3 separate regions of the Homo sapiens genome follow, and regions 2 and 3 are each linked to region 1. Evidence: fine-mapped expression QTL. A gene starts in region 1. Each other region holds a variant in brackets. All regions are shown on one strand. Distances are from middle to middle. Region 1 holds the start of SMARCAL1 (SNF2 related chromatin remodeling annealing helicase 1). Region 2 overlaps SMARCAL1 (SNF2 related chromatin remodeling annealing helicase 1). Region 3 holds the start of RPL37A (ribosomal protein L37a).

The links.
Region 2: its variant is fine-mapped to the expression of SMARCAL1 in stomach (GTEx, PIP 0.91).
Region 3: its variant is fine-mapped to the expression of SMARCAL1 in whole blood (INTERVAL, PIP 0.90).

Annotation. Positions count from the first base shown.
Region 1 is chr2:216,408,327-216,418,466 of GRCh38, reverse strand. SMARCAL1 (SNF2 related chromatin remodeling annealing helicase 1) reads right to left here and starts at 5,983. Exons shown (of 18, transcript NM_014140.4): 1 at 5,819-5,983; 2 at 4,575-4,611; 3 at 2,952-3,820; 4 at 2,160-2,210. The coding sequence starts at 3,762. SMARCAL1-AS1 (SMARCAL1 antisense RNA 1) reads left to right here and starts at 5,967. Exons shown (of 5, transcript XR_001739881.1): 1 at 5,967-6,042. RefSeq lists enhancers at 654-713, 5,874-5,963, 6,094-6,183, 5,927-6,221.
Region 2 is chr2:216,461,094-216,471,233 of GRCh38, reverse strand. SMARCAL1 (SNF2 related chromatin remodeling annealing helicase 1) reads right to left here. Exons shown (of 18, transcript NM_014140.4): 13 at 6,567-6,637; 14 at 3,188-3,290. Among named protein-coding and RNA genes, the nearest start is that of RPL37A-DT, 33 kb to the left of the region's middle. The variant A/C (reference allele first, on the strand shown) is at 3,900.
Region 3 is chr2:216,491,760-216,501,899 of GRCh38, reverse strand. It overlaps RPL37A (ribosomal protein L37a), which reads right to left and starts at 3,056. Exons shown (of 4, transcript NM_000998.5): 1 at 3,023-3,056; 2 at 2,502-2,630; 3 at 1,869-1,951; 4 at 1-559. The coding sequence starts at 3,025. The coding sequence ends at 496. It overlaps RPL37A-DT (RPL37A divergent transcript), which reads left to right and starts at 3,148. Exons shown (of 4, transcript NR_183317.1): 1 at 3,148-3,293. RefSeq lists enhancers at 2,980-3,369, 3,550-3,639, 9,274-9,333 and a silencer at 5,742-5,811. The variant A/T (reference allele first, on the strand shown) is at 5,466.

The DNA of each region.
Region 1 (10,140 bases):
CAAGGAGAAATTCACAAATCCATAATTATGGCAAGGAATTTCAAGGTTTATCTCAGCAGGCAAAAGCTCAAGTGTGTAACACATTGGTAAAGATGCAGAGGAGCCAAACAATTAGAAAAATTCATCTGAAAGCTATATGGAGAATTTTTTTTCTCTTCTATGAGCTTCATTGAGAAGTATATATGGAGAATTTTGTATCCAATAAACATGGTTTTCAAAACATGTGGAGCATTACACAAAGCAATGATAGTCGGGCACAGTGTCTCACATCTATAATCCCAACAGTTTTAGAGGCTGAGGCAGGTAGATCACCTGAGGTCAGGGGTTCAAGACCAGCCTGGCCAACATGGAGGAAGCCCCATCTCTACTAAAAATATAAAAATTAGCCAGGCATGGTACACGCCTGAAATCCCAGCTACTCAGGAGGCTGAGGCAGGAGAATCACTTGAACCCGGAAGCCAGAGGTTGCAGGGAGCCAAGATCGCACCACTGCACTCCAGCCTGGGCGACAGAGTGAGACTCTGTCTCAAAAAAAAAGTAACGATATCACACAAAAAACCTAAATGAATCTGCAAAAGCAGAAGTCATCTAAGTCACCATGCACCGTGGTCAGAACAAGAGTAAAAAGACAAAACAACCGCAACAGGGGAAACCACTGGTTTAAGATCACCAGCAATGAGAATACCAGGTGTCAAAATCTGCAATCTTTATCCAGAGCCTTGGGTCTCCCCGTTCCAACACCAAATAAATCGATTAAAAAATGAGCCCTCACTAGACGGAGCTAGCAGCAGCAGCGTTATGGGTTGAATTGTGTCCCTCCAAAATTCATGTTAAACACACAGCCCAGGACCTCAGAATGTGATTGTATATGGAGATAGGGCCTTTAAAGAGGTTAATAAGTTAAATGAGGTCACCAAGGTGGGCGATAATCCAATGACTGGTGTTCTTCTAAGAAAAGGGAGAGACCCTAGGGATTTGCACACACAAAGGAAAATCCAAACAAGGACACAGAGAGAAGACAGCCACCTGCAGGGCATGGAGAGAGGCCTCTGAAGAAACCAACCCTACCAATCTCAGGCTTCCAGCCTCCAGGACTGTAAAAAATAAATTTGTATTGTTTAAGCCACCCAGTCAGTGGTACTTTGTCACGGCAGCCCTCGCAAACTAACAACACTAGCAGCTACCAAAGAAAGATATCGCCTAATGTACACATTTCAAGAATTGGAGGCCAAGGAGAAAACCAGGAAATTCTGCAGGGAGCTGTCCCATCACTGGCCCAAACCACCTTTCCCAGAAACTGTACTGGTGCCTCCAGATAATCCTACCTCATACCCCAAATCTGCAAAGTGACCTAAGCATACATCCTTATCTTTTCCTTTCTTAAGCTAGGGGGAGGAAGAGACGGTGTAGAAATGGCAGCTGGGGGAGAAGAGTAAAATAAATGGAAGATGAAAACACACAGGGCTGACGCTTTGACACAGGTGTGCAAGCTCCATGTACCAGGATCAAGTGACAAAAACTTTAGTGTATGACAGTTTTCTCAGAAGACAGAGGGACGTAACCAGGTGCTGACTATGACCAGACACTGCATTAGCTGGAACTTGCCTGGCCAATGCCCCCTCCTTGCATTTTTGAGTAGTTAGCTGCACAGAGAGTACTCTGAGGATCTGTGCTGTTTGCTGAACTGTTACCTTCCTGGGAGCAGGGGCTGGCAGGCTGCCTGAGCTGCCTGTCACTGCTGGGGCCAGCATAGTCTGGTGGGAACGTGTAGTCTGAAGTCAGACTGTCAGGGTTTGAATCCCAGTTGTACAACTTATTGGCTATGTGACCCTGTGTTACTGACTCATCGTCCCTGGGCCTCAGTTTCCCCATCTGTAAAAAAGTCATTATAAGGAATAAAAGTTAGCATAAGGGGCTTAGAATAGCCTAATGCAAAGCAAGCATCATTTAATGCTAGCTTTTGTTAATACTACTAACGGCCTTCACCCACAGAGCTGCCTCATTAGGCTAGACAGAGTGGGAAGGAGTGTTGGGGGGGGTGCCCTGAAAGCTTTCACCACCTGTAAAGCCATGCACTCCATAAGCTGGACTACATGTGATACTCTAAAGATTTTCAGCACCAGTGCCACCCTCCATGAGACAACCATGTGTCTACTTACTCAGGGCACTATAGTCATTCATGCTGAAGTTCCACGTCTTGGTGTCAGGATCTGAAACAAAACAGAGGACTGATGACTGTTGACAATTTGTACTTAGGCACTCAACACAAGCTTGTCTTCTAAATGAATGAATGAAGGACGCCAAGTTCAAAACAGCTGACCAGCAAGCCCCCACTGATCTATAAAAATCTCTGTAGAGGACAAATAGTAAATATAGATAATTCTTTTATTCCATGTAGTGGAATCCAACTCAGGCCCTGGGAAGTTATGAACTTCACCTAAGAGGACTGAGGGCAGAGTTAGGACTAGAATCCAAGTTCTCCAGGTCGTAGTGTGGTCAGGCAAAGCAGTATGAGGAGTAATGGCTCTGGCCTGTAATTGAGCTAGTCACATCCTGACGCTGCCTTTCCAGACCAATGAAACTGGGCCTGTCACTTAATCTTGCTGGGCCAGTTCCATCACCTTAAAAACTAAAATAACATCTACTTATTTCAAAAAAACTGCTGTTCAGCTTAAGTGCTACAATGCATATAAAGCACCTGGCAGAGGAAGCGTCTTCTCAGTAACATTCAACTGTTCTCCAGATGGCCACGTGACAACCATCAAGTTTGGCAGCTGTTTAAGGGAATGACTATTATGAAGGGAAACAAGCTAAAATTGAAAAATTTTTAACAACTGGATGGACAGCATGTGCCAATGCACTCTCTTAATATTTATGAGAAACTGTTAGATTAAAAGAGACTCCAAAAATAAGAAAAAAAAAAAAAAACAGCTGAAAAATGAAGACATTACCATAATTCTTGCTGGGCAGGGTCTTAAACACTGCAATGAGTTCCGCATTGTACCCAATCAACACCTGGAAACGATCGCCGTTCCTTACGCACTTTCCCTTCTGAGAGTTCACTCCTTTTTGGACTGAGGACCCTGACTTCTGCTGGAGTCTTCCTTCTGTCCTGGGCGTTACACTCTCTGAGCTAGAATGGATGTAAGAAATGTTCTGCCCCGAAGGGGAGGCTTTTGCTGTCTTGGCCTCTAACTTAGCATCCCTGGGAGGCTGTCCAGAGGAATGAGCTGGTGTCTCTTGGGAACTCTTTGGTTTGGCCAGAGGCTTATGAGTTGGGTTAGCAAAGGGTGTGAACCTGATCTCAGGTGAAGCCTGAGCATGACCTTGACCTAACTCATAACTCAAGAGCTGTTGTTTAGGGACCTCTGGAGGACTTTGTGCCAAGGGAGGAGAGATTCCAGTGAGAGCCATTTGACTACGTGGACTGTGGCCTGGGCAGGCTGTGGGCATTTCTTCTGGCTTTTTCCATATTCCCTTTGCCTGAAAACTGTGGGAATCATGAGGTCTTTGGTCAGCATTAGATGAGCTACTGAGATTCTGTTGCTTGAAAATGACACCATGGCTCACTGGCTTACAAGACTCCCTTGGGAAATTTTGGGATGGGCCTTGCTTGGCCTGGAATGGGTTGCCAGCAATGGAGGTGCCCGAGCTAGTCCTCTGATGCTGTTCTGCCAATAACTTCTCAGCTCTGCGGGCCAGAGCCTTTTGTCGATTCTCTTCAATCTTTTTCCTCTGCTCCTCTGTAAGAGGCAAGGACATTTTCACAGAGAAATGCTTATGCAGGAATGTCAACCTTTAATTGGAAAGTTGGCAAAAGCTGTGGAAGAAAGTAAGAAGAATGAAATGAACATTACATGTATTAATTGTCATACTCCAACCATGATTTTAACAAGCTTTTGTCCCAGAAAATGCATAATGAGCACAACTAAAGGATGTATTAAAGTTTCTTTTATAATTGCACACACACTGAAATAGTAGGCAGCATATGCTGAAATAAAGACCCTGATCAAAAAGCAAAAAGCAGGTCGGGTGTAATCCCAGCACTTTGGGAAGCTGAGGCAGGTGGATCACTTGAGGTCAGGAGTTTGAGACCAGCCTGGCCAACATGGTGAAACCCCATCTCTACTAAAAATACAAAATTAGCCAGGCGTGGTGGTGCACGCCTGTAATCCCAGCTACTTGGGAGGCTGAGGCAGGAGAATTGCTTGAACCTGGGAGGCAGAGGTTGCAGTAAGCCAAGATCGTGCCACCGCACTCCAGCCTGGGCAACAAGAACAAAACTCTCAAAGAAAAAAAAAAAAGCAAAAAGCAAATCCAAAGCTAAAAAGGCATTTCAGAGGCAATATTTCTCTCCTTCTCACATGGTAACTCACATGGTAACTCAATGGTTCGAAGCACTGCCAAAATGGTGAGTAACTCTTCTGATAACTCACATGGCCCAGCCAAGGTGAGTTATCAGAACCTAAGAAAGTTATGCATTGCAACGTAAATCCATCAGATAATGAGAAAGGTGACATTTTTAACCAGAAAGCATAATAGATTAGACTGAAATAGACCAACCAACCACATACCATGGCGTGACACTTGCTAACATAGTCTTTTTCCAACCTAGAAGAAGGAAAAAAGCATTAGCCTCCCATAGCCTGCACACTGAATTCTCCCCTCACATTCACCCCTTTTTATCATTCCTGGCAAATCAGTCTGCCTGTGGCTCAGTGCAAGCCAGAGCAGCTGGCCTTAGGACCTGACTTCCAACACAACACACGGAGCAACTGACTGACTCTCCTGGGAAAATAAGGAGCAGAAAAAAAAAAATTATGTGTTCACTGTGCAAATTAAGATGCTACATAAAGATGTAAACAAAAAAGAATAAAATTACTCTGTAATCTTACCAGCCATCAATAACCACAGTTGAAATTAATAATTTAGAGTATATAGTTCGGATTTTTTTTCATCCATAACAAAATGGCACATATTTAGGAGATATAAGAATTTATTATAAAGTAGGATCATTGTAAACATTCCATATTGCACCCTGATTATTTTTTTCCATGAATTTACCCGGAACATTTATTTTCCTATGAGCTGAGACATGTTTACAATATTTTAGAAGCAGCGGGCAGGACACACCAATTTGTCTGGCTTGGTTCAGACTAAATAGGCTGCATCTAATGTAATGCTGTGTAACGGTTACAATGATGATGTAGGGGTACTCCAGTAGCATTGCTTAGGCCTCTGGGCAGCTATAGGGTTCAAAGCCTTCCTTCCCTGCTGGGGCTCCCTTTGGCCAGAACCCAACCCCCCTCCCCCCTCCCCCACCACGAAGTATCTATCCCCAGAGAACTTCCACCTTCTCCAACCATTAGCAGTTAGGAAGGGGTGAAGAGGTTAGGAAAAGGTTTTGGAGGTGCACAGCAGAAGCCCTCAGTCTCTCTGGGTAACACACTCCTGCCTAAGTTTCCAACCAGGGATCTCCTGCACCTCCAAACTCCCCAGATCCCAGGCCTGGTAAGCTGTCTCCACTAACCAGAGAGACTCGGCCATAAGACCCACTGATCAGCCCCAAACCATAAATCCATTCCGCCACATGGACGCCCCTCTTCCCCTCTAGGCAGGGACCTCTGCCCCCCGCCCCCCACGCCCCGCATTTCGGGGCGAGCCTCACCCAGCCTCAAGGTAAGCGGGCGCCACGCCCCACTCCCACCCCTACGATCTCCACTTGGATTCACCCTTCCCATTGGCCCACTTCCTCCTCCAGGCTGGCATTGGTCTCGTCCGCCTCCGCCGCCTTCCTGCCAGTCTACCACTTTCTCACCCAGGGAGGCCTAGAACGCGAGCCACATTCGCCCCCGGCCCTGACCCCAGGCGCGACTGCAGAGCCTCCCGAGCGGGACCGGTCTTCCGAGTGGACGGTTAGGCCACGGGTATTCAAGCGCTGCGAGTTCGCCAGCCTTATTGTAGCGGCCAGGCCTGAAGGGCTAGGCCACCGCTGAACTACATTTCCCAGCAGGCAACGCGGCCGCAGTTTCGCTTCCAAAAGTAAGAATGATGAGACGAGAACGCGAGCGGGGCTGCAGTGTCTTCTGGGATTTGTAGTTCGGGCCGGGAGCCTGGCGAGAAACGGGAGCTGCAACGTCATGGGCGGGGCGAAAGTGGTGCACCCTGGAAGTTGTAGTTCTCCAGAGGTTTAGCCAAACACTAGGTCCTGAAAGCCTAGGACGTTGAGGTTTCCAAACCCGGAGTCGGCTGTCTCCAGAGGACATCCCAGACAGCCATACTAACTTGGCAGCTCTTAATAAAAAGTATCTCCCCGGGGCATCCATTCCTGGTATTGCTATACTTGCCATTTAAGCCCCACCCGCTGCGCCCGGCTGCCATCATCGTCATCATTGTAGTCATCAGTCATTGTGTTTAGCATAAATATGAGTTACCTCATTTAACCGCACTACAACCTATGGAACACATTCTTGTCCCCCTTTTACAGAGGGGGAAACTAAGACAGCTATTTGATAATATTTCTCAAGGCTTTATTAAGCTAGCTTGTGATTCTGATTCCATAGCCCCTCCTCTTGAGAGAAGATTAGTCATGAGACTTAAAGAGTCACTTTACCCCATCCTGAGCACCAACATCCTGAGCCATCCTGAGCACCATTGGTGATAAATATAACATTTCTCTATCAGTGTGCATATGAATGTTGCTATTGTTCTATTTTCAAACATGGCTCATTTAAAAACAAACAAGTCTACTAAAGGATTTGAAAAAATGGACCAGACATGCTAAGAAAAAGGAAGCACAGCAATGTGTGTAGTTTGATTTTTTTTTTTTTCATCCTTACCTGTACATGTATGTAAACTCATAAAGGTCTGGGAAGGAAACTTAAAAAGTCACCAAACTGTTCAGGAGCAGAGTGGCATGAAATACACTTTTCAGCTTTTTAATCTCTATTTTTCAGAATGATTTGAATTTTCTAAAATAATAATGTAGAATTTGTGTGACTTTTGAAACAATAAATAATCTCCCTTCTTCCTTCCTTCCTTTTTTTTTTTTTTTTTTTTTTTTTTTTTTTTTTTGAGACAGAGTCTCACTCTGTTGCCTAGACTGAGTGTGGTGGTGTAATCTTGGCTCACTTCAGCCTCTGACTCCTGGGTTCAAATGATTCTCCTGCCTCAGCCTCCCAAATAGCTGGGATTATGGGTGCATGCCGCCATGCCTGGCTGATTTTAGTAATTTTAGTAGAGACAGAGTTTTACCATGTTGGCCAGGCTGGTCTCAAACTCCTGACCTCAAGTGATCCACCTGCCTCAGCCTCCCAAAGTGCTGGGATTACAGGTGTGAGCCACTGCGCCCAGCCCATTTGTCTTAAATGACAAAGACATTGCCTGTCTTAGGGGATCTGTGTGAGGTTTAGTAGTAGAAAGTATTCAAATCTCAGCTCTACCCCTTTTATTGACCTGACATACCCAGTGATTGTGCCTCCATTTTCTCATCTGTAAAGTAAATGTAGAAAACAATACCACCTTGGTAAATCTTGTTATTAGAATCAAAGCAAGGTATTATGAGGGGAAGTGCTTAGTGAACTGTGAAATCCCAGAACAGGTAAGAGAGGGATGTTGTTATTATTTGAGGTAAATCTCTTATATCGTCCGTTTCTCTATACCTAGCGCTCATTTCCTACTGTATAGTGTGAACAGAAACTAGTTAATGAACACCTGTCCCTGCCCTTCCTGTCTCCCAACAGTCAGTTAATTTACTAAGAAAGCTGGGTGCCGTGCACTTGACTCATGTCTGTCACCGATTCATATGACCATCACTTCGCTTTCCTGGGCCTCAGTCGTCTCACCTGTAAAATGATACCCTGCTTTGACATATGCTAAGAGGGCCTGTGGACCAGTGGATCCTCATGTTAGATACTAGAATTCTTATAGATTCACAGATCTTACCCCAGAAATTCCAATTCAGTAAGTCTGGAATTGAGTTAGAAGATGTGATTACCTTTCTAGCTCTAACATTCTAAAATTCTAAGAATAGGAAATTAAAATATGCCTTTGAGGCCGGGTGTGGTGGCTCATGTCTATAATCCCAGCACTTTGGGAGGCCAAAGCAGGCAGATCACCTGAGGTCAGGAGTTCGAGACTAGCCTAGCCAATATGGTGAAACCTCATCTCTACAAAACCCCATCTAATACAAAAAGTAGCTGGGCGTGGTGGTGCATGCCTGTAATTCCAGCTACTCAGGAAGCTGAGGCAGGAGAATCGCTTGAACCCTGGAGGCGGAGGTTGCAGTGAGCTGAGATCATGCCATTGCACTTCAGCCTGGGCAACAAGAGTGAAACTCCATCTCAACAACAAAAAAAAATGCATTTGGGGGGAATAATCATCTTCAGAAAGTAAACTAATTAGACCCCACTCAATAGTTGCATCTTTGCTTTGTCAGTAGCATCGTTTACTGAGGTCTTACTGTATGCAAGGCTTTTTAAAAAACTGTATTTCACCAGTTCTTAAGGTAGATTATAATGAAACTTCATTTAGTAAAAAAAGTTTAAAGGCCTGGAAGAAAACACAGGAAACAAGGAGTGAAAGGAGAGGAGAAGACAGCTGTAGCGGTCAAGCTGCAATTTGACTTTGAGCTTCCTAGCAGATAAGCAAAAATGTCCAGAAGTCATATAAGACCTTCAACCAAACACAGCACAGCTGAAGCTCCCAAACACTGGTCACCTGAGCAGTGCCAAAATGGTTCAGAGCATCACCTGGTTGCCTCAGAAACAAGCAAACAAAAGGATAATGTAATGAATATGTTGTAAAACTAAATTTTTACAATTAATTATAAAATCCTGAGAGTCTATTTAATAGGTTTTAAAGTTTAACTGGTTTTTCTTTAGTAAAGTGATGATTATTATAAATACCTTTATTGGGCAAAATAAAAATTTGTTTTTTCTTCCAAAACTTAATCCAATAATGTTTAGTCAGTGAAATCCAAAAAGCTGGCAGACACCACCATAAGGGAATCCAAAGATGAGTAAGGTCCAGTTTTTCTCCCTCCAAAAGGTTACAGTATTTGGAGAACAGAAGACAAATAACTAGAACAGCCAGATTTAACAAATGTCTCAAATATTTGTCCCAAATATTGTGTGGGACATACTTACACTAAAAATGGATTTAAACATATCTGAAATTCAAATGTAACTGGGCATACTGTATTTTACTCGACAGCCTCCTATTATTTGTAGCTCAGGACTTAGTTGAGCAGCAAGCAAATATGCATTGATAGATGATTCATGGATATATTGACACATTGCATTTTAAAGCTAGAAGGAGCTTTAGAGACCATCTGGTTTCATAGGTGAGGGAATAGAGGCCAGATCGGCTGCCAGTCCATATGGCACCTGTGTTAGTCTGCTCAGGCTACAAAAAAAAAAACAAAAAAAAAAAAACACCACTATAGACCGGGTGGCTTAAACAACAGAAATTTATCTTCTCACAATTCAGGAGGCTGCAAAGTCCAAGATCGAGGTGCCAGCCATTGATTTCTGGTGAGGACCCTCTTCCTCTCTATGTCCTTATGCAGTGGAGAGGGAGAGAGCACAGCCCCCTCTTGTGTCCCTTCTTAGGACGCTGATCCTGTCATATCAGAGTCTTGCCCTTAGGACCTCACTGAACCGTCATTCCCTCCTTGCAGGTCTTGTCTCCAAATATGGTCACAGTAGGGGTTAGGCCTTCAATATGTGAATCTCGGGAGGACACAGTTCAGTCCATAGCAGCACCTTTGTGTGTTGTAAAAACACACCCCTTTCTCCCAGGAAAGGAGCCTGGCTCCAGGACCCACTGCAAGCAGAGCATTGCCAGCCCCCAGCGGGGTGCCCCGGCCAAGTGGCAGTCTTGCTGCTTCCCCAGAAGAATACTTCGATTTTGCCAAAGCTACTTCCTCAGGTGGAAGAAATTGATTTCCCATCTCTCTGGAGTAATCATCCCTCCCCAATTCATGCAGACTTGGAAGAGTGTTAATCAGGGGGCCTCATCCTCGGGGAAGTCAGTGGATGCAAGATACGAGGGAAAACACCAGACCCCCTCCTTCTGGGAACTTAATCTGCAAGGATATGATACAATGAGAAAAAGACAACTGAACCGATATAGCCCAGC
Region 2 (10,140 bases), 53 kb before region 1:
TGTTCATTGGTATTTTCTTCTAATACTTTATGGTTTCAAGGATCTTTGATTCACCTGCAATTTAATATAGTAAACAGTGAGTTAAAGTTTCATCTACCCTCCCACCCCCCAATTATTTAGGCAATTACCCAAACTTTGTTGAAGAAATTGAAAACGGATTTGTGACAATTCCTTGATCATGTATTTGCTTTCCATTTATGGTAAAGGGCCATGTATTCTATTCCACCATCTGGCCATCTCTCTGGGGCCAGCATGGCTGAATTTTAATTATTGGTATTTTATAACAGATTTTAATATTTAATGTCTGAAGGGACAAGTCTTCCAACATTGCTCTTCTTTTTCATAGTTGTTTAGATATCGCTCCTGCTTTTTTTTTTTTTTTTTTTTTTTTTTTTGAGATGTTCTTGGGAGTAACAGTATAAAGTTCCCTTTAAAAAATCCAACTGGAGGCTGGGTGCGGTGGCTAATGCCTGTAATCCCAGCACTTTGGTAGGCTGAGGCAAAAGAATTGCTTGAGCCCAGTTCTAGACAAGCCTGGGCAACATGGCAAGACCCTGTCTCTACAGAAAAATTTAAAAATTTGCAAGGCGTGGTGGTACATTCCTGAGGTCCCAGCTACTGGGAAGGCTCAGGCAGGAGGATCACTTGAGCCTAGGAGGTTTAGGCTTCAGTGAGCAGCATTCGTGCCACTGAACTCCAGTGTGGGAGATACAGTGAGACTCTGCTTCAAAAAAAAAAAAAAGATCTAGTTGGAGTTTTTATTAGAATTCAATTAAACCAGCTGGGCCTGGTGGCTCACATCTGTAATCCCAGCATTTTGAGAGGCTGAAGCAGGTGGATCACTTGAGGCCTAGAGTTTGAGACTAACCTGGCCAACATGGTGGAACCCCGTCTCTACTAAAAAAATGCAAAAAAATTAGCTGGGCGTGGTGGTGTGCACCAGTAATCCCAGCTATTCAGGAGGCTGAGGCATGAGAATCTCTTGAACCCAGGAGGCGGAGGCTATAGTGAGCTAAGATGAAGCCACTGCACTCCAGCCCGGGCAACGGAGCGAGACCCCCCTCCCCAACAAAATAAATTTAAAAGATAAAAAGATAACTGATAAAACATTAATATCCAGAATTTATAAAGAATTTTCCTAAATCAGTAAGAAAAAAACAATCCAACAGAAAAACAGGCAAAGGATACAAACAGAATATTCACAGGAGACAGCTAAAATGGCCATAAATAAATAAATAAATAAAATGATACACATTTTACTGGTAGTCAGGGAAATGCAAATTAGAGCAAGAATGAGATGATATTTCATTTCTCTGGATTGGTAAAATTAAAAAGTTGGATAATACCAGTGTTAATGGGCACACAGAACAGCAGGAACCCTTATATGTTGTTAGTGAGATTATAAATGTGAATGACCACCTTGGAGAGCAATTTGACAACATTTAGTATGAAGATGAACCTATTTAATAACCATGCAAGAGCATGCCTGAATATGCCTCCCCTACACAAAGCACATACACAAGCCATAAAGAAATGCATAGATACAAACATACACCTACTATAATATTCACACGATAGCAACCATCAGCAGGAGAATGGATAAACTGCAGTATAGCTATCCAATGAGATACAATTCCACAGTTACAGTGAATGAACTATACGTGTAATGCAGTATAAAGAAATCTCCATTGGGAGGCCGAGGCGGGCGGATCATGAGGTCAGGAGATCGAGACCATCCTGGCTAACACACGGTGAAACCCTGTCTCTACTAAAAATACAAAAAAATTAGCCAGGCATGGTGGCGGGCACCTGTAGTCCCAGCTTCTCGGGAGGCTGAGACAGGAGAATAGCTTGAACCCGGGAGGTGGAGCTTGCAGTGAGCCAAGGTCGTGCTACTGCACTCCAGCCTGGGGGACAGAGCAAGACTGTTTCAAAAAAAAAAAAAAAAAAAAAAGAAATCTCTAAAACAATGCTGAGAAAAAAGTAAGTTGCAGGATAATTACACCGTGCTGTCATTTATTTTAAATTTTTAAAAATAAGCAAAAAGGAGACGATAAATTGCTTATGGATACGTACTCCTAGAATATAGTATGACAACATGGAGGGCAAGGATACCCATTGCCTTCGTAATAGTGATGTTATTGCTGGAGAGATGGAAGGGGAATAAAGTTAGAATACTGAGGGGACCTAAGTATTTTATTATTAAAAAAATAAACCTTCAGGCTGGGTGTGGTGGCTCATGCCTGTAATCCAAGCACTCTGGGAGGCCGAGGTAGGTGGATCACTTGAGGCCAGGAGTTCAAGACCAGCCTGGGCAACATGGTGAAACCCCGTCTCTACTAAAAATACAAAAATTAGCCAGGTGAGGTGGTGTAGTCCCAGCTACTTGGAAGGCTGAGGCACGAGAATCACTTGAACCTGAGAAGCGGAGGCTACAGTGAGCTGAGATCCTGCCACTGCACTCCAGCATGGGCAACACAGCAAGACTCTGCCTCAAAATAAAAAAACCTTGAAATAAATTCATTTATTAAATCTGGGTGGGAGATACATGGGTATTTGCTGTATATTTCTCTGTACTCTTAAAGTACATTCAAATGTTATATAAATATAAACGATGAGGGAAGACAAAGAGCAATTTACAGCCTTAAATTTAACCAAAAATGAAAAGGGGATGAAATGTGTTCAGTTTTCATAAACATCCTTGGAAATCCTTCTAGATCCCTTTCGTTCAATTTCAGGAGAGCCATAAAACTCTCTACTAATGTCTGCACACTGCCATGTGGAATTAATAAAAGTGCTTTGACAGTGCTGAGGAGGAATGAAAGGAAGGAAAAGAGGAAAACATTCACATAAATACTTGTCTCCATACAAAAGGACAATTTTGCTATCTCCTCTCTTGCCAACTTTGTAATTATTTATGCAGAATAATGGAACAGCCCCTGGGAGATGTTCCTAAAGCAAGACTCCTGGGATATCTATTTGGAGCATGGAGGAAGTTAAAATGACATGGCTGGGGAAACATTTTGACCCCACTGTGGTTCTACAAGCAAGAACTCTTCTTCAGAAAGTCTTCAGCAATGCTTCCGGAAGCCATCGGTCTCACTTTGCTTGGATCTGACCTAAGCCTGCTTAGAACAACTTGGGACATGGCAAAAGTAGCCCATGGTGAATTTCAAAGGGAGCTCACCTTTCTCTCAAGCTCTTGCGTAATTGCGTCCAGGACCACCTTATGGTGTGCAAATACTAAAAACTTCTCTCTTCCACTTTCCAGTAGGTCCAAGATATATTCACTGCATTTGACAATGACAACAAAACAGATTAAACATATACTCCTTATGTTTTATGTGTCTCTGGTATGTTACTGAAACATTCTTATTATCTGGGATCATAGAAGATGATCAACAGTTTTCACTTTACCTCCGACTATCATTATAATGTGTTTTAAATACAAATTAGAGTGTCCTCTGTAGATCTGAAAGCATTTAGGGAGGGGACTAAGGAATTAATGACAGTACACAAATTTCTAGAAGCTAAATATTGAGACATACATAATACTAAAGAGACATTCCAAGAAGGATCTCCAGCTCCTCCCACTTTAGACCTCAAATGACAGGGCCAGTAGTTAAGTCAGTTAATTCTCTTCCAAGGCAGAGGACTATGGAGAGAAGGTTCTCATTTGTTTGGCCTCCCTTAATTTACATCTCTCTTCCAGCCACTGTGTTTTTTCTTAGCTTCCCACCCTTTTTTTTTTTTTTTTTTTTTTGAGACTGAGTTTCGCTCTGTCGCCCAGGCTGGAGTGCAGTGCTGAAATCTCAGCTCACTGCAACCTCCACCTCCTGGGTTCAAGCAATTCTCTTGCCTCAGCCTCCTGAGTAGCTGGGATTACAGGTGTGTACCAC[A/C]ACGCCCAGCTAATTTTTGTATTTTTAGTAGGGATGGGGTTTCACCATGTTGGCCAGGCTGGTCTCAAACTCCTGACCTCAAGTGATTTGCCCACCTTGGCCTCCCAAAGTGCTGAGATTACAGGCGTGAGCCACCGCACCCGGCAAGCTTCCCACCTCTTATCTTTCGCTTGGCCTTAAGGTGGCTACCCTCAGGGAGCAGTGGGGTGGGAAGTCACCAGGTTAACAGACCCTGGCTAGGTGCCCCCTCCCCTGGTAGCTCCCTGAAGAGGGATCACAATCCCAAAGAAGAGGTAAGCCCAGTACAGGCAAGTGAGCTCCTTTGCTGAGGCCATTGCCAGCCATGGGTGCGTCTGGACAGGGAACAGACTCTGCCTTCCTTAAAGAAGGATATGTCTCAGGTGAGGGAAAGGTACGTGGACTGCCCTGTAAACATCCAAGAGTCATTTCAAACAACACTATGACTGACCAGGGCACCAGATTTGAGTTCAATTTGTGAATTGTTGATACTAATAGAATTTACTTTAATTATTTTGAGAGACATAAAATTTGCCATGATATAAGCAAAAAAGTTTACGGCTACAGCATCAAAAAGTCACAAGGCCACAAAATCCACTTGGTGAGCTCATAAAAACCACAGGCCCCAATTTTCCTAATGCGTCTTTCCCCTCTATATCTCATACACAGCTTTGTTGTTCTATAACCTTCTACAAGTTCCTAGGCTGGAAATATCTGCCTACCACAATAACCTTGGCTTTTATATTAAAAGATGCCCATTAAAATGAAAAAACAAACAACAGCAAAAAAAGAAAAGAAAAACAACTAGCTGAGGAAATTGGGGTTTTGAAGACATACAATCTAATTTCCACTTACTAGCTGTGTGACTCTGAGGTCCAGAGAGTCATAGATTTACTCAGTGTTTGCATTTTTAAAAATGGAGCCAGTGTGACTTACATGATCTCACAAAGATGCTGTAAATGTGAAATGAGTTCACAGGTGTAAAAAATGTTTGGAAACTACAAAGCACTATACAATTTATTGTATAATAGAAATTTGAGAAAGTATGTATAAGGTATGACCAAAGTTTATTTATGAGGTGGTAGAAAGACTTAAAATTTCTAAGGGAAATGGGTGGCTCTGGGCACAGTATCTGAAGAGAGAGGCACCTGGTGGACTCTGAATTTTGCAGGTCCTGAGCTGAGGGAGCAAGGGAGAAACGCACACCCTTGCCATCTGTTATTCCACAGCACATGAGAAATGGGTCAGCGGGGGCAACTCAGATGTGTTTCTGGGAGAAAAGTTTCCAGGCCATAAAAACCACATCTGGAGTTCATTAGCAGGGTCATAAATGAAAAGGGCAGTGCCCAGGAGGTGAAGGGGAGGAGGCCAGCACTGGGCAGTCTTTCCAGGGGGCATTGCAGATCGAGTGGTGTGGGGAGCTCTCTTGCCACAGTGGAGGGTGTGGAGAGGTAGGTGGGCCAAGTACGAGGATGGGGCAGATATATTTCTTAATTTATCCCCAGATCTCAGTCCCCACAGCCAGTCTGGCACCACTCAGCCCTACGGAATCCATTCTCATTGTAATTTCATCAGTTGGACCATTATCCTGCCAGAGCATCACATGAATGTTAAACAAAAAAAAAAATCAGGCAAACTGCACATCATTAGAATTGCCAGGTTTCTACCCCAGTGATATTTAAATAGGAGTGGGTTTTTCTTTAAGAAAGGCATACAATTGAGATTTTGTCATGAATAATTGTAAGAATAGAAATTATTACTTTAGCTTTAATTTATAAGGTGGAAATAGAACTAGGCGTGACAACGGCCATATGCCCATATCTTTTGAACAAACTTTGACATTTGTCTTTTTATTTAGGTAAGTAATGGATGACAATTCCTGACCTTGGGGAAGACCCAAGTATCCCCATAAGGCAGCTTTTCCTTCTAATTTTTTTTTCCCTAAAGGCAAATGATCACAGTCCTCCTAGAAAAACTCTCCCCTTTGGTGCTGGGGACAACCCCACCCTCCTTTTAACGAGCAGCAGCTCCAGCCTACTTGGCTCAAGACAGGATCTCTTAGAGACCCAGGTACATCCTAGTAGTCGCTCCAGTTACCGGCCAACTTATGCCTTGTGTGTAATTAACAGCAGGGTGCCCTAAACTTTTACTTTTTTCATTTTTCCCTTGAGACAGGGTTTTAGTCTCTTGCTTAGGCTGGAGTGCAGTGGCACCACCTTAGCTCACTGCAGCCTCGACCGTCCTCCCTCCCAAGCAATCCTCCCTCCTCAGCCTCCTGAGTAGTTGGGACCACAGGTGCATGCCACCATGCCCAGCTAATTCTGTTCATTTTTTGTATAAATGGGGTCTCACTATGTTGTCCAGGCTGGTCTCAAACTCCTGGACTCAAGCAATCCTCCCACCTTGGCCTCCCAAAGTGCTGGGATTACAGGCATTGAGCCTGGCCCCTAAACTTTATTTTCAAGGCAGCTATAATTCTACTCTCTGATCATCTGTTTTATTTTTTCCTTCCTCAACAAAAGGCACATTTAATAATCTCTGGTCATTTCTTAGACGCAGTAAAATCATTCAGGCAGAATAAAGTAATAAGTTGTTTTTTTTTTTTTTGAAGATGAGAGAGAGAGAGGTCGACACTTAGTGACCACTTACATGACAGATGGGATTTTAGCTTCAGCTGTTCTGTTGAAGAAGAGAATGAGGGCATCTTTCTGCTGCTGTTTCTGTTGAAAGATAAGTTAAGAATGTTAAGTGCCCCAGTCTGAGAACTCTGGGATGAGTGGATCTAATTATTGCTCCTATGCGCTTTACAAATCTCAACCACCCGTCACCAGAGTCAGGAGACCCTGGTGCTGACAATGATTCCCCTTTCACTTTGGCCAAGTCAGAAGAACTGCCTGGGTCGGGTTTTGTCCTCAGAGACGGCATTAGAGCTACTCTGCCATTGTCCAAGAACCATTGCAAGAATCCAAGAGGCAAGGAACACAAAAGCTCTTTGGAGACGCATTTCAGGTAGGGCTTCACCATACACACCAGACCCATGTGAACCACTGAAATGTGGCCTTGGCTAAGCATACCTATTTACTACAGCCTGGTGACAACTTACATGTGACATTTCCCCAACTTGCTTTTTGCTTCCCTCTTTTCTTCTGCCAAGCTGTGACTATACCTGACTTACAGAGCTTACCTCTGTCCAAGATTTACTGAATCAATTCCAATGGACCCTGACTAGTCTATTTTACTATCATTTTATTTTATCTTATTTTTTATTTTTTTGAGACAAAGTCTCGCTCTGTCTCGCCCAGGCTGGAGTGCAGTGGCGCGATCTCGGCTCACTGCAGCCTCTGCCTCCCAGGTTCAAGCGATTCTCCCGTCTCAGCCTCCGAGTAGCTGGGACTTACAGGCATGTGCCACCACGTCCAGCTAATTTTGTATTTTTAGTAGAGACAGGGTTTCACCATGTTGGCCAGGCTGGTCTCGAACTTCTGACCTCCGGTGTTCCACCCACCTCAGCCTCCCAAAGTGCTGGGATTACAGGCATGAGTCACCGCACCTGGCCCATTTTAGTATCATTTTAAAACCATTATTCAGGTGTTCTTGGTATACCTCCCACATAAGGTAATTAACTTCCCAGAAGAAGAAACGGTGTTTTCTTTATGGTTTACATTTAAGTGACTCCTAATAAAGAATGCTAACACAGGAGATGCTCAAATCATTTCATAATAATGTGAGATAACATTTACTATCGCTCTGGCCTCCCAGAGATCATACTCTTACCATCATTGGTAAGAGTGTCCCCCCAAAATTCATAATCTGAAACTTAATTTCCAGTGCAGTGGTGGTGGGAAGTGGGGCATCTGGGAGATGCTTAGATCATAAGGACAGAGAGCCTCTTTGTTCCTTCCGCCCTCTTTGAAACAGAAACTGGGCCCTCACTAGACACTGAATCTGCTGGCCACTTGATCTTGAACTTCCCAGCCCCTAAAACCATGAGCAATACATTTCTGTTTATAGATGGCTCAGTCTAAAGTATTTTGTTACAGCACAAAAGGACCAAGACAGGTGGCCATCTCCTTTCACCAGCAAGCATAGTACAGGTGCACCCCCCTTCTTGTGCCTGGCCTCTGTAAGATCTGTGACTGACAGGACAGCTTCCCCAGGGAACAAAGACGTGATTCAACAGCAATAACATCTATAGCCTTGAACCTGTCATTCTTGAGATCTTGATAACTCAGGAAAGCAACCACAGCCAGACTGTACCTAAAACTAATAACCATGGATGGAGGAAAAAGCTGTCTGGTTAAAACAGCTTCTTGGCTTTGGGGTTGTTTTTGTTTTTGAGACAGGGTCATGCTCTGTCACCCAGGCTGGACTCGATCATGGCTCACTGCAGCCTCAGCGTCTTGGGCTCAAGCAATCCTCCCACCTCAGCCTCCCAAGTAACTGGGACTAAAGGTATGCACCACCACACCAGCTTTTTTTTTTTTTTTATTTTTTGTAGAGACAGGATCTCACTATGTTGTCCAGGTCCGTCTCAAACTCTTAGGCTCAAGTAATCCTCCCATCTTGGCCTCCTACAGTGCTGGGATTACAGGCATGAGCCACTGCATCTGGCCAGCTTCTTAGCTTTGAATGGTATCTTTCCTCCAGGACTTTACGGGAAAAAAGAAAGATGCTGAGGAACCCAGGAAGCTGTGGGGTCACTGATTAGACTGTAAATCCCTTTCATATCCTACATGTGTCTTGGCAGTGGCAGCCACCTACCCTCCTATTTTGTATCACGCTCTGGAAACATACACAACTTTTCACCTGTGGCTAGTGAGCTCAGACTTCATGAAATCCATTCATGGACGTCTAACGGTCCCCAGGAGCAGGCTAGGCCCTCCAACCCAATGCAGTTTCTAGTAGCCAAAGGGGCAGGGCAGGCTTACATGTGATGACCTCACTCGCAGCATGTGTGCCTCCATCAGACTGCACCCCAGTTGGCCCCCATCTTCAGTTTTACTCGTGTCCTTCAGAGAGAGCCTACCCCTCCCACCTACACTCACTCATGCCATACTCCCTAATAAGAAAGAAAGAGGGCAAAACAAACAGATGGAAAACTGCTGAGAAGCACTTTCAGGAATCTTGCTCTAACATTTAGCACCTAGAGTTGATGAGAGTATGAAGAAACAAACACTTTTATTATACTTGACTGGTGGGATGGTACACTGGGCTAGCCCTTTTGGGGATGATGCAGCAAAACGTACCAACCCCCTTTAAATATGCCAAAACCCTACCATCCAGCAACTTACTCCTTAAAACTAATTCTCATTATAAAATTGCATGTGCACAAATTTCTATGTAAGCTACTTTTTCAGTACAGTATTACTCAGAATAGTGAGCAATTGAAAGTAACTTAAAGGCCCAACAAAACGATTAGCAAAATTATAGCCGTGTGAGAAAACACTATGCAGTCTTTAAATATTATGGTTTGTTTTTTTTTTTTTTGAGACAAGGTCTCTGTCTGTCACACTGGAATGCAGTGGCACAATCACAGCTCACCTCAGCCCCAAACTCCCAGACTCAGGTGATCTTCCCACCTCAGCCTCCTACCCAAGTAGCTGGGACTACAGGTACACACTACCACGCCCAGCTAATTTTTTTGGATTTTTTGTAGAGACAGGGTTTTGCCATGTTGTCCAGGCTGGTATCAATCTCCTGGGCTCAAGTGATCCTCCTGCCTTGGCCTCCCAAAATGTTGGGATTACAGGAGTGAGCCAGCACACCTGGCTAAATATTATGTTTTAAGAGAATATTTAACAACATGGAAAAGTCTTCATAAGACAGTAACCTGTTTTCCTTCCCACTTGACGTGTTTGTATGATCCCAGTTCTGCTTTTAAAATACACATATTGCTTATTGCATATATAATATTTTATATATATTTATATGCAGATACATAAAAATATATCTTAAAGCAACATATACACACATAATTATAGAAAAATACTCAAATTATATATGCCAAAATTATGGTTGTATAAAAGATGATTCTTTTTTTTTAAATTGGTTAACTTTTTATTATCTTGTTTGTACTTTTAAAAAGTATAGTTACAGAAGCAGCACATGTGCACTATAGGAAATTTTTGAATTTAATTAAATCAATTTAATTACCATCAGTGTCCACCAATGCTCATTACCTTAATGTTTACCTTTCCAGGTCTTTATACACATACACACACAC
Region 3 (10,140 bases), 83 kb before region 1:
CTCAAAATACAAAAATTAGCCAGGTATGGTGGTGCGTGCCTGTAATCCCAGCTACTCAGGAGGCTGAGGCAGGAGAATCGCTTGAACCTAAGAAGTGGAGGTTGAAGTGGGCCAAGACTGGTATACTGCACTCCAGCCTGGGTAACAGAGACTCCGCCTCAAAAACAAACAAAAAAACTAACTGTAATTTAAAAACTAAAGTTTACAGTTGGCTCCAATGTATCTCAAAGTCAAACTGGCAGGAGCAGACTTATAAAAAGCTAACACTCATATCTAACTTGGAAGACTTATATTCTTATGCTGCATTTTACCATTTGACTACTAAAAAAGACACTGAATTACAATAATCCATCTTGGCATGCTTTTCCAATACAACAGTATTTACACAATGCAAACATCAGAATGTCTAATAAAGTTAACAAGCCAAGGCAATTTTGTTACATAAATTAACCCATTTATTATAGGCCAGTGATGTCTCAAAGAGTAGAGGAGCGTCTACTGGTCTTTCAACTCCTTCAGTCTTCTGATGGCGGACTTTACCGTGACAGCGGAAGTGGTACTGGAAAGAAAGATTCAGTTTCCAACATAATTAAGCATGTTAACATAGAAAATGGCAAATAAGTAAATCTGCCTCGTTTTTGTGTTAAAGTCGCTTCCCAAATTTTCCTAGAAAGAATTATACTGAGATAGACTGCTCTACCAATACTTTGCTGCAGTCAATCCAAAGATCTAACCAACATTAGATTACTCCTCGGAAATTAGTGGCTTCTAAACTACATGATGGCATCCTTTAAGAGCCATGCCTTCAGGATCTTGCAGAATTAGACATACAATCTCATGCATCTGATTTCTCAACCAGAGTTGCTTTTTTTTTTATAAGTAACTCAGTTGTGGACAAGCAAGCTTTAACTCCCCCTACCCCATCCCATGAAAAAGAAATGGTTCTAAGAGGCTGACCTAAACTTATTAAAAGGGAATGGACAGATTACAAGAAATGAATAAATTACAAGATGATACAGTGAGAACAATGATTAAGGAAATAAGAGCGGACACTAAAGTGCCTTTGGGAAAGACAGCTATTGAAATGACTACAAAAGTTTTACCATAAAATTCAGGAACTATACCTGAAAATCACCATCCTGTATTGTAAGTATATAAATAATTCACTTTCCTATCAGAACCAAGAAAGCACTCTAGTTCCCATTTTCCATTCTGCCCTAATAAAAACCCCCACAAGGAATATATATATATTTCAACATTTTCCACTGCTTCGGTTTAAGTTTAAATTGACTGAAACTTTAAAATCCAATTCTTTAATTACACTAGCCATATATGTGCTTAGTGTATTGGACAACACAGGTCTAGATGCTAGTTTGTAGTATAGTGTTTGTAGTATCGCCCTGTCAGGTGATACTGAGTTGCAGATTCACAAACCTGCAGCAGTCTAATACTGTTCAGAAAGACGAAACTGTGGTGGTCCTGATGGCCTCAAGTTCCAAATACAGTTTTGAACTAACTGACCCCTTCACCTATTTTTATCAAAACTTGCAGTGCAAATCAACGTTCAGTAGATTCAGCCCCACTAATGGACCTGCACAGTATCATGACAATGTTCACAACAATGTGCCCAGTGACCATCAAATTCTAAAGTAGTCTGTGAATTAGATTTCCGACTTCTATTTTGGTAGTTTTGTGTTTACTCTTTCAATAACTGAAAATAAACCACCACGGAAGAATCCTGAAAATACAAAGGCATCCTTATTCTCTCAGTCCTGAGAAAGTGTTAAAACTAGCCCATCCAGCAGCAACCTGGAATTTGGGCCTATGTGGTCCACACACTTCCAAATACCACAAGGAACTAGACTCACTTGTACGTCCAGGCACCGCCAGCCACTGTCTTCATGCAGGAACCACAGTGCCAGATCCCCACAGCTCGTCTCTTCATCTTGGTCTATAAAAGAGAACCAATTTTCACTATGAACCAAGTAAGTATTTTCTCTTACAAGCATCCAGAAGTCTAAATTTGGATTCACCTTATTGTCAGGGATGTGAAAGCCTCCCTTTCTCCCTCAAAAACAAAACAGGGATTGCTGTAATGCAGTATTTTGCACATAAACGTTCAAACCTTTATCAAACAAAAATCCCTCGCAGAACAAGTAGAATGGTATTAGATGCACAGACATCTTGGGAGTTGGTGCAGAAACATCAGTAGACAAAACTGATGGAATCATTTCCCACAAAGCAGGTTTGGCTTAGGCTGGGGGCACTCTGTCAAATGATTATTTTACCCATTAACGTTTAAGCGGTTTTCTTTAAATGAAAAACGTCTCACAAAATCTGAAGTTACCATCAACACTTTTATCTTAAAACTCATAATCAACGGTATGAGTAATTCCAACTGCCCACCAGCACACGGCTTATAAAATACCTTGAAGTCAGGCCTCACTTGGGTAAGAAACCTGCCCTCCCTCTCCTCTCACCAGAGACTTTGCCTTACTTACTTTGCCACAGAAAGAGCAAGTGTACTTGGCGTGCTGGCTGATTTCAATTTTCTTCACCATTTTCCGGAGGGAGGCCCCATAGCGGGTCCCGTATTTACCGACGATCCCGACTTTCTTGGTACGTTTGGCCTGTTTAGAGTGAAGGGAGAAACCAGTGATAGACCTGGAACCCAGGCAGGCCCTGGAGCCTCCACACACCGTTCCTCCACCTCACTGACGTGTGACCGACATGTGAATTACATATGACCTAGTTTTCCCTAAATTCAACCCAACGAAACCAGTGCCCAGGGCTGGCCGCGCGCTCCGAAGGCCCGGCGTTAACCCGGCTGGAGCGCGCCAGGCCCAGCCAAGGCGCCCCCGCCCCTCCGCCTTGGGGAGCTTCCGACAATGGTGTCTCCTGCAAAGGCATGGAGACAGGAGAGAACACGGGGTAAGGCAGGAGAGGAGATGGGTGCGGGAGAAGAAAACAAGGACAGATGCAGGCAGATAGAGTTCTAGGCCGCACAGAGACCCACACTCACCATGTCGCCGCGACCTAGGTCCGAGCCCAGAAAGGAAGAGACGCGGTGCGCAGGCGCGGTATTAGGCGGACGAGCGGAAGTGGCTGGTAGAGGCCTAGCTAGGAACTGAGCTCTATGGTTTGGGCGTTTTCAGGCGGCCTCCTGAGAAATGTTTGCAATTGTAAGGCGTCTCTCTCATCCAGGTTTACCCAGATTCGCAAACTATGGCGACAAACAACCATAGCAGAAGCATGTCCGGATTATTTCACATATATCACAAAATCCTGCAAAGGTACGAGTTCCTCCATTCGATGCACAGCACTTGGCTTGGAGAAGTGCATAAATCTTACATTTGTGGGGCCGGGCGCGGTGGCTCACGCTTGTGATTCTAACACTTTGGGAGGCGGGGTGGGTCAGGAGTTCGAGACCAGCCTGGCCAGCAGGGTGAAACCCCGTCTCTATTCCAAATCTCATTTATTTCCCCCTCTGCATTATGCTCTCTAAAAGTGGCTGACTGTGCAGGATGCTAGCGACAGTGGTGACTAAAATCCAAGGTTCCATTCCCAGAACAAGTTGCAGGCCAGCTGCAAACGATCATATAGCCACATTAAGAAGTTAGACAGTTTCAAACTGGTCAGAGTTCTGAAGGAAAGGACGATGGTTCTGCTCGCGACTAATTCAGAAGAGCCTGGTGTTTCCTGAGGAAAGTCTGAGATTGGAAGGCTGGGGAAAAGTTAACAGTCACCTTGGAGTTTTGTGTTCCAGCTGCTGCATCTCAGTGCGGATGGCCTGCCTTCCACTTCATTTCAGAACTCACTTCCATGGCCCCACACTAGGCTGTTAAGACAGCTTCCTGGTCCAGGCCTGAACCCTTAAACTCCAACATCTTACCCTTTACCCACCGTCAATTCTCTGTCCCTCCAGGTCTCTCAAAGGGGTCAGCAGGGAAGAATTGGATTTCTGGTTGAGGCCGGGGGTGGGGAGGGTGTGTTCTGGAACTAGACACATGATCTTCTTTCTTCACGTAGAACACACACACTAGGAAGTTTGGTTGCCTTTTTTCAGGGGATGGCTAATCCAGAGAATAAGAAGCTCAGAAAACTACTGGAATAAGAGTGTAAGAGAGAATCCATGATTAGAGGGCCAAGAAAGACCATGGGAGCTGAAAGGCATTGTGTGGCCCTGATTCCAATCAGAAGTCCGGTAACAAGTAGCTTCCGTTCCCAAAGCTTAATATTAACTGTCTCAAATAATTTTGCACCTGTTCACTTTTCCTCACAATTGTATTAAAGTCAACTTGCATACCTGGGCTGAGGTGGGAAGATCATTTGAGCCTGGGAGGTTGAGGCTGCAGTAAGCTGTCATCACGCCACTGCAGTCCAGCCTGGACAACAGAGTGAGACTCTGTCTCAAAAAATATATATGAATCAAATCAAATCAAAGCAACTTGCAAACAGCTATGTACTTCATATGGTTACAATTGTTGGAGGGTAACACATGGTAGGCACTGAGTATTTTATGTGGATGTTCTCATTTAATTTTCCATTATCCTTTATGATAGGAATGATTATTATCTTCATTACTAAGAAAAAGAGAGGAAGTCTCATGTAATGATTAGGAACTTAGAGGCTCTGGATTCAGTATGGGTTCAAAACAGAACTCTGCTATTTACCAGCTGTGGGACCTCTGACAAGTTATTATATACTTTTCTTTCTTTTTTCTTTTTCTTTTTTTTTTTTTTTTTTTTTTTTTTTTGAGACAGAGTCTCTCTTGGAAAAGATTCTTTGAGACCAGGAGTTCTAGGCAGCCTGGACAATATAGCGAGACCCCATCTCCACACACACAAAAAAATAATAGGCCAGGTATGGTGACACACATCTGTGGTTCTAGCTGCTCAAAAGGCTGAAACGTGAGGATTGCTTGAGCCCAGGAGTTCAGAGGTTACAGTGAGCTATGATCACACCATTTCACTCCAACCTGGACAACAGAGTGAGATCCTTTCTCAAAACAAAAACAAAAAAAGAAAGAAAAAAGAAACTCATCTCAGGGAAGTTAAGAAACTTGCTCAATGTCACACAGCAATTAGAACTCAAATCTGGTCTGTCTGATCCCAAAGTTAGTTCTCCTAATTGCTAGCTTGTACTACGCCAAATCATAATATTTAGTGCACTGAAAAAGCACATCAGAAAACATAGTTGAATTAAAATCAGGTCCCTGGCACTCAGTCTGGGCCAGGATCTGTAACTACCTTGTGGTTTGACTTTAGGTAAGCCACAGTCCCCACATGGAGAACCACCTCCCCACCTCCCAGCAGCCACCATCTTTATTTACAAGGAGCTGGACCAGGTGGTCTTCAAGGTCCTGTCCAGTTCTTCCCTCCTATGATTCCAGGAAGAGCTTCCAGACTTTGAGTGCCACTGGGGCAGTGACCCACCATGTGCTTTATGTCAGCACATCTTGCACA[A/T]TTTTGTGGAATAAAGGTAGTTGTCTCTTTATCCTCCCCAATCTGTTATTCCAGCTCTGGCTGTGTAAATTCAAGGAGGAGAAAAAGCAAAAAGTAGTGGATAGTGGGAATAGTCAAATTGATTTTTGCATACATTTTTTGCATTTTCTAATTATCTTTTATAATGAGCATGTGTTTCTTTTATAATCTAAAAAAACTACCATTAAAAAAAAAACCCCAAACATCTCCAGTAACGACGAGTATACCTACTGCCCCAGATCTCAGGGTTTGTTTTTATTTGTTTTGTTTTGTTTTGAGACAGGGTCTTGCTCTGTTCCCCAGGCTGGTGTGCAGTGGTGTGATCACAGCTCACTATAGCCTTGACCTCCCCAGGCTCAAGCAGTCCTTTCACCACAGTCTCCTGAGTAGTGCCCAAATAATTTTTTTATTTTTGTAGAGACAGTCTTGCCATGTTGCCCAGGCTGGTCTGGAACTCCTGGGTTCAAGCAATCCTCCAGCCTCAGTCTTCCAGAGTGCTGGCATTTCAGGCATGAGCCACCATGCCCAGACCCCAGATCTTGGTTTATAATATCATTCTTTAATAAAAGGAACCAGGGCCCCTTAGAGAAGTGACTCATTCTAGGACTGCAGCAGGAAATATACAAGGCGAGCCTGCAGTATCTTGTGCCAGAAAGTAAGGAAATGTTCAGAAAACCCTACACTGATGGGGATATGTCAGAGAGACACAGGAGTCAACTGAAAGAACTCCGAATGGCCAAAGCTAGAAAATTTTGAGCAATAAATAAGGTAGTATTGATTTAACCCAAGTGTAAAATAAATATCCATGGGTCCATGTGGATATAAATAAATGATAGACTAAATAAATGAAAGACAAGAGGCAACTCTCTTTTGCAGAAGAATTTATTTTTTCTTTTTTTGAGACCGAGTCTTGCTCTGTCGCCCAGGCTGGAGTGCAGTGGTATGATCTGGGCGCACTGCAACCTCTGCCTCCTGGGTTCAAGCAAGTCTCCTGCCTCAGCCTGCTGAGCAGCTGGGACTACAGGCATGCACCACCACACCCAGCTAATTTTTGTATTTTTAGTAGAGACGGGGCTTCACCATAACGGCCAGGCTGGTCTTGAACTCCTGACCTCGTGATCCACCCTCCTCGACCTCCCAAAGTGCTGGGATTACAGGTGTGAGCCACTGCACCCGGCCAAGAAGAATTTCAAATAATTTATGTGGATATTCTGCTCTCAAGGAGGGTGAGCATAACTCCCCACTCCCTAAGTGTGGGCTGCACAGAATGACTTCCTTCCAAAGAGCACAGTATAGAAAGGGGAAAAAAGAGTAACTTTATAGCCAACACGACCTCAGCCAAGGTGATGAAGGTCAACATCAACAGTGATAATCTTGTTACTATGTCCCCTTGATGTGGAATGAAAATGGCACTTTGCCTCTGTGATCTTTCTCCCAAAACCCATAACCTCAGTCTAATCATGAGAACAATAGACAAATTCCAAAAGAGGGACATCCTTCAATATACCTGACCAGGGCTCCTTAAAACTGTCAAACCAGGAAAGCCTGAGTAACTGTCACAGCCAAGAGGAGCGTAAGGTGACATGATGACTAAATGTAACATGAAATCTTAGAACAAAAAAAAGACAATACGTTAAAAACTAGGAAGATCCGAATAAACTACAGACTTTAGGTCATAATAATGTATTAATCTTGCTTTATGAATTGTAACCAATTTACCATACTAATGTTAAGATGTTGCCGGGCGCGGTGGGTCACGCCTGTAATCCCAGCACTTTGAGAAGCTGAGGCAGGCAGATCTCGAGGTCAGGAGATTGAGACCATCCTGGCTAACACAGTGAAACCCTATCTCTACTAAAAATACAAAAAATTAGCCAGGCATGGTGGCACATGCCTATAATCCCAGCTACTCGGGAGGCTGAGGCAGGAGAATTGCTTGAACCTGGGAGGTGGAGGTGGAGTGAGTTGAGATCGTGCCACTGCACTCCAGCCTGGGCGACAGAGCAAGACTTCATCTCAAAAAAAAAAAAAAAAAAAAAAAAGTTAACAATAGAGAAAATTGGGTAAGGGTATACAAAAATACTCTCTCCTCAATTTTTTTATATAACTATAAAACTGTTCTACAAAATAAAGTCTATTTTAAAACAACCACCACCACCACCCAAGGAGGTCACCACAAGTCAATTCCATGAGGACAGGGCTTGTGTTGTTCACCTCTGCATCCCAGGACCTATACAAGAGCCTGACGTGTCAGCAGTAATGTCTGTTGAATGGGGGATTGTTACCTTGCATGGTATAATGGTGATGGGTATATGAAGCGTTTCATGTGTTTGGGTTTCTCTGCTTTGTAAAGTCAGTCCAGTTATGTCAGAACTGAAAAAGGCTTTAGAGATAATGTAGCCCAAACTGGAAACTGAGGCCCGGGGGGTCAAATGACTTGCCCAAGGTCACATAGCCATTAAGTGACACATAAACGTGTGTTCGCTCCACTGTATCACATGATTCAAGTCTCTAAGTCTCTTTCCGCAGCTGCAAAATGAGTATACTGTACAATAAAGGGTCTCAGGAAGATAAAATAACTTCCATGAAGTGTCTAGTGAACATTTTAAAATAGTGGCCAGTATGTTTGTTGAGATGCTGCTGCTGCTGCTGCTGCTACCTGATTTCAACATCTCTTTCTGCCTTTTCAATCCTCTCTCCTCTTCTGCCATACTCAAGGAAGTACAGAAGATCTGCCTTCTTCTTTCCCTTAAAAATATGCCCATCTCTTTTCTCCTTAATTTCTTTAGCTTGGACACAATGAAACCACTACAGTCATGGTAACTGATGCCGCTTGAGGCCCACAAAGGGAGTGAGATGTGCCCAAGATGTTTCTCTTCCACCACAGGCCTCATGCACCCTCTGCCCCCATAGGTTAGGGTGGAAGATGGCAAGGGGCCAAGGGAACAAGTCCCTCTTCCCTCAGAAGGGAAATGCACTGCATTTCAGGGATGTTATCTGGAAAGCTCTCCACCCAAGCAATGCCTGCCTCCAGAAAACTATAAATTAAAACAAAAATATATCCATGTTGATACAAACAAAGGAGACTAGTGGAAGGAGTCTTAAACAAATGCTCACCATGATCCTCCCTTTTCAGACTGTGCCTCTTGGCCACACAGGATGGTGCTCAATTGAGCTGGGGAGTGGGTGAGTCAGCTTCATGCTGGGGCAGTCCAGGCAGAGCTGAGGTGAGCCATCCTGGGCTGGCACTAGAGCCTAATTCAGATCATCATTTAGCAAATGTGCTGCCTCCCCCACGCCCTCCGCTGCAGAGCCTCCTACGTCTCTGGCCTTCAGGGGGGTCTGAGAGAGAGAGCAAGAGAAGAGGGAATGCATGAGTAGGAATGCAGTAAGCGGCTGAAAATGAGACACTCCATAATAGGAGGAAATTGTTCATGTTCAGAGCAATTTTGTCAAAACTGAACAATTATCTTTAAATAGCAAGCTTGAGGATGTACAAATAGCACTCATGAAATCAGCTCTGAGTGACTTCAGAGAATCGGCCCTCTCCTAAAGTCTCAATTTGTCTTTTCTGTGGGCTCATAAATTTCCATCCCTATTAGAGTACCATCCGGTGTGGAGAATGTTAACTATAATGTGTCCCCATAAAAGACTCAGTAAAAATCACTGCTGGCTCACCTCTGCTCTTAAGGAGCCCTCAACATTCACTCTTTGCCTTTAGAAAAATAAATAAGTTAAAAGTCACCTCCAGAGAGGAGTTCTTGTAGCTGTTAACCAGTTCTCTTGGGGCATATGGAACATTTTATTCTTGAAAGAAATCTGAGGTGCAAGCATCATTCCAAATTCATCTTGTGCTGGAGACAGAAAGGGTTTATTGGGGCGTGGTTCCTTCACTTCATGCCTCAAGAGAGCCTGCTCTCCACAAAGCCCCTGGGGGCCACAGACAAGAGTGGGGCCTGCACAGCATTGTTGAGAGTCCCGTGAGGCCAGAGCCACAGGCAAGAGCTGACCCAGCAGGAAAGGTGAGGCCCTCCAAGGCAGTCCTGGATGCCCCGAAAGAATAAGAGTGTGGGAAATTGACTCAGGCAACCCCTCTTTCCTTTCCTCCTTCTCCCCTCAAATTCCATTTAAACTCGTTCTAGTTATTAATGGACCCGTCACAGAGCATTTACACAGGAAGTGCACACATAAAGACTGGAGTAGTTACTTGGCAACTCTTAAGTGGGATAAGGTATGTTAAAAGGAAAACTTTCAACAAATTAAATTTAACAGAGTTTAATTAAGCAAAGAATGATTTGTGAATTGGACAGCCCCCACAACCAGAAGAGGTCCGGAGCAGCTCCAGGGTTGCCACATGGTTGGTTCACATTTATGGACAGAACAAAGAAAGTAACATACAGAAAAGGGAAGTGAGGACAGAAAGAGCTGGATTGGTTGCATATTTGCCTTATTTGAACACAGTGTGAACGGTTGGCCACCTGTGATTGGCTGACATATGGCTGCGGTAATTGCCTGAGACTTGGCTACTTGTTACAAGAGTGGGTCCCAGTCTGTTTACCAATCTAGTTAGGTTATAGTTCACTCTGCACAGAGAAACCTTTAGGCGGACTTTAAAATATGTAACAAGGCAGCACTGGGTTAAGCTTAATTTAACGAG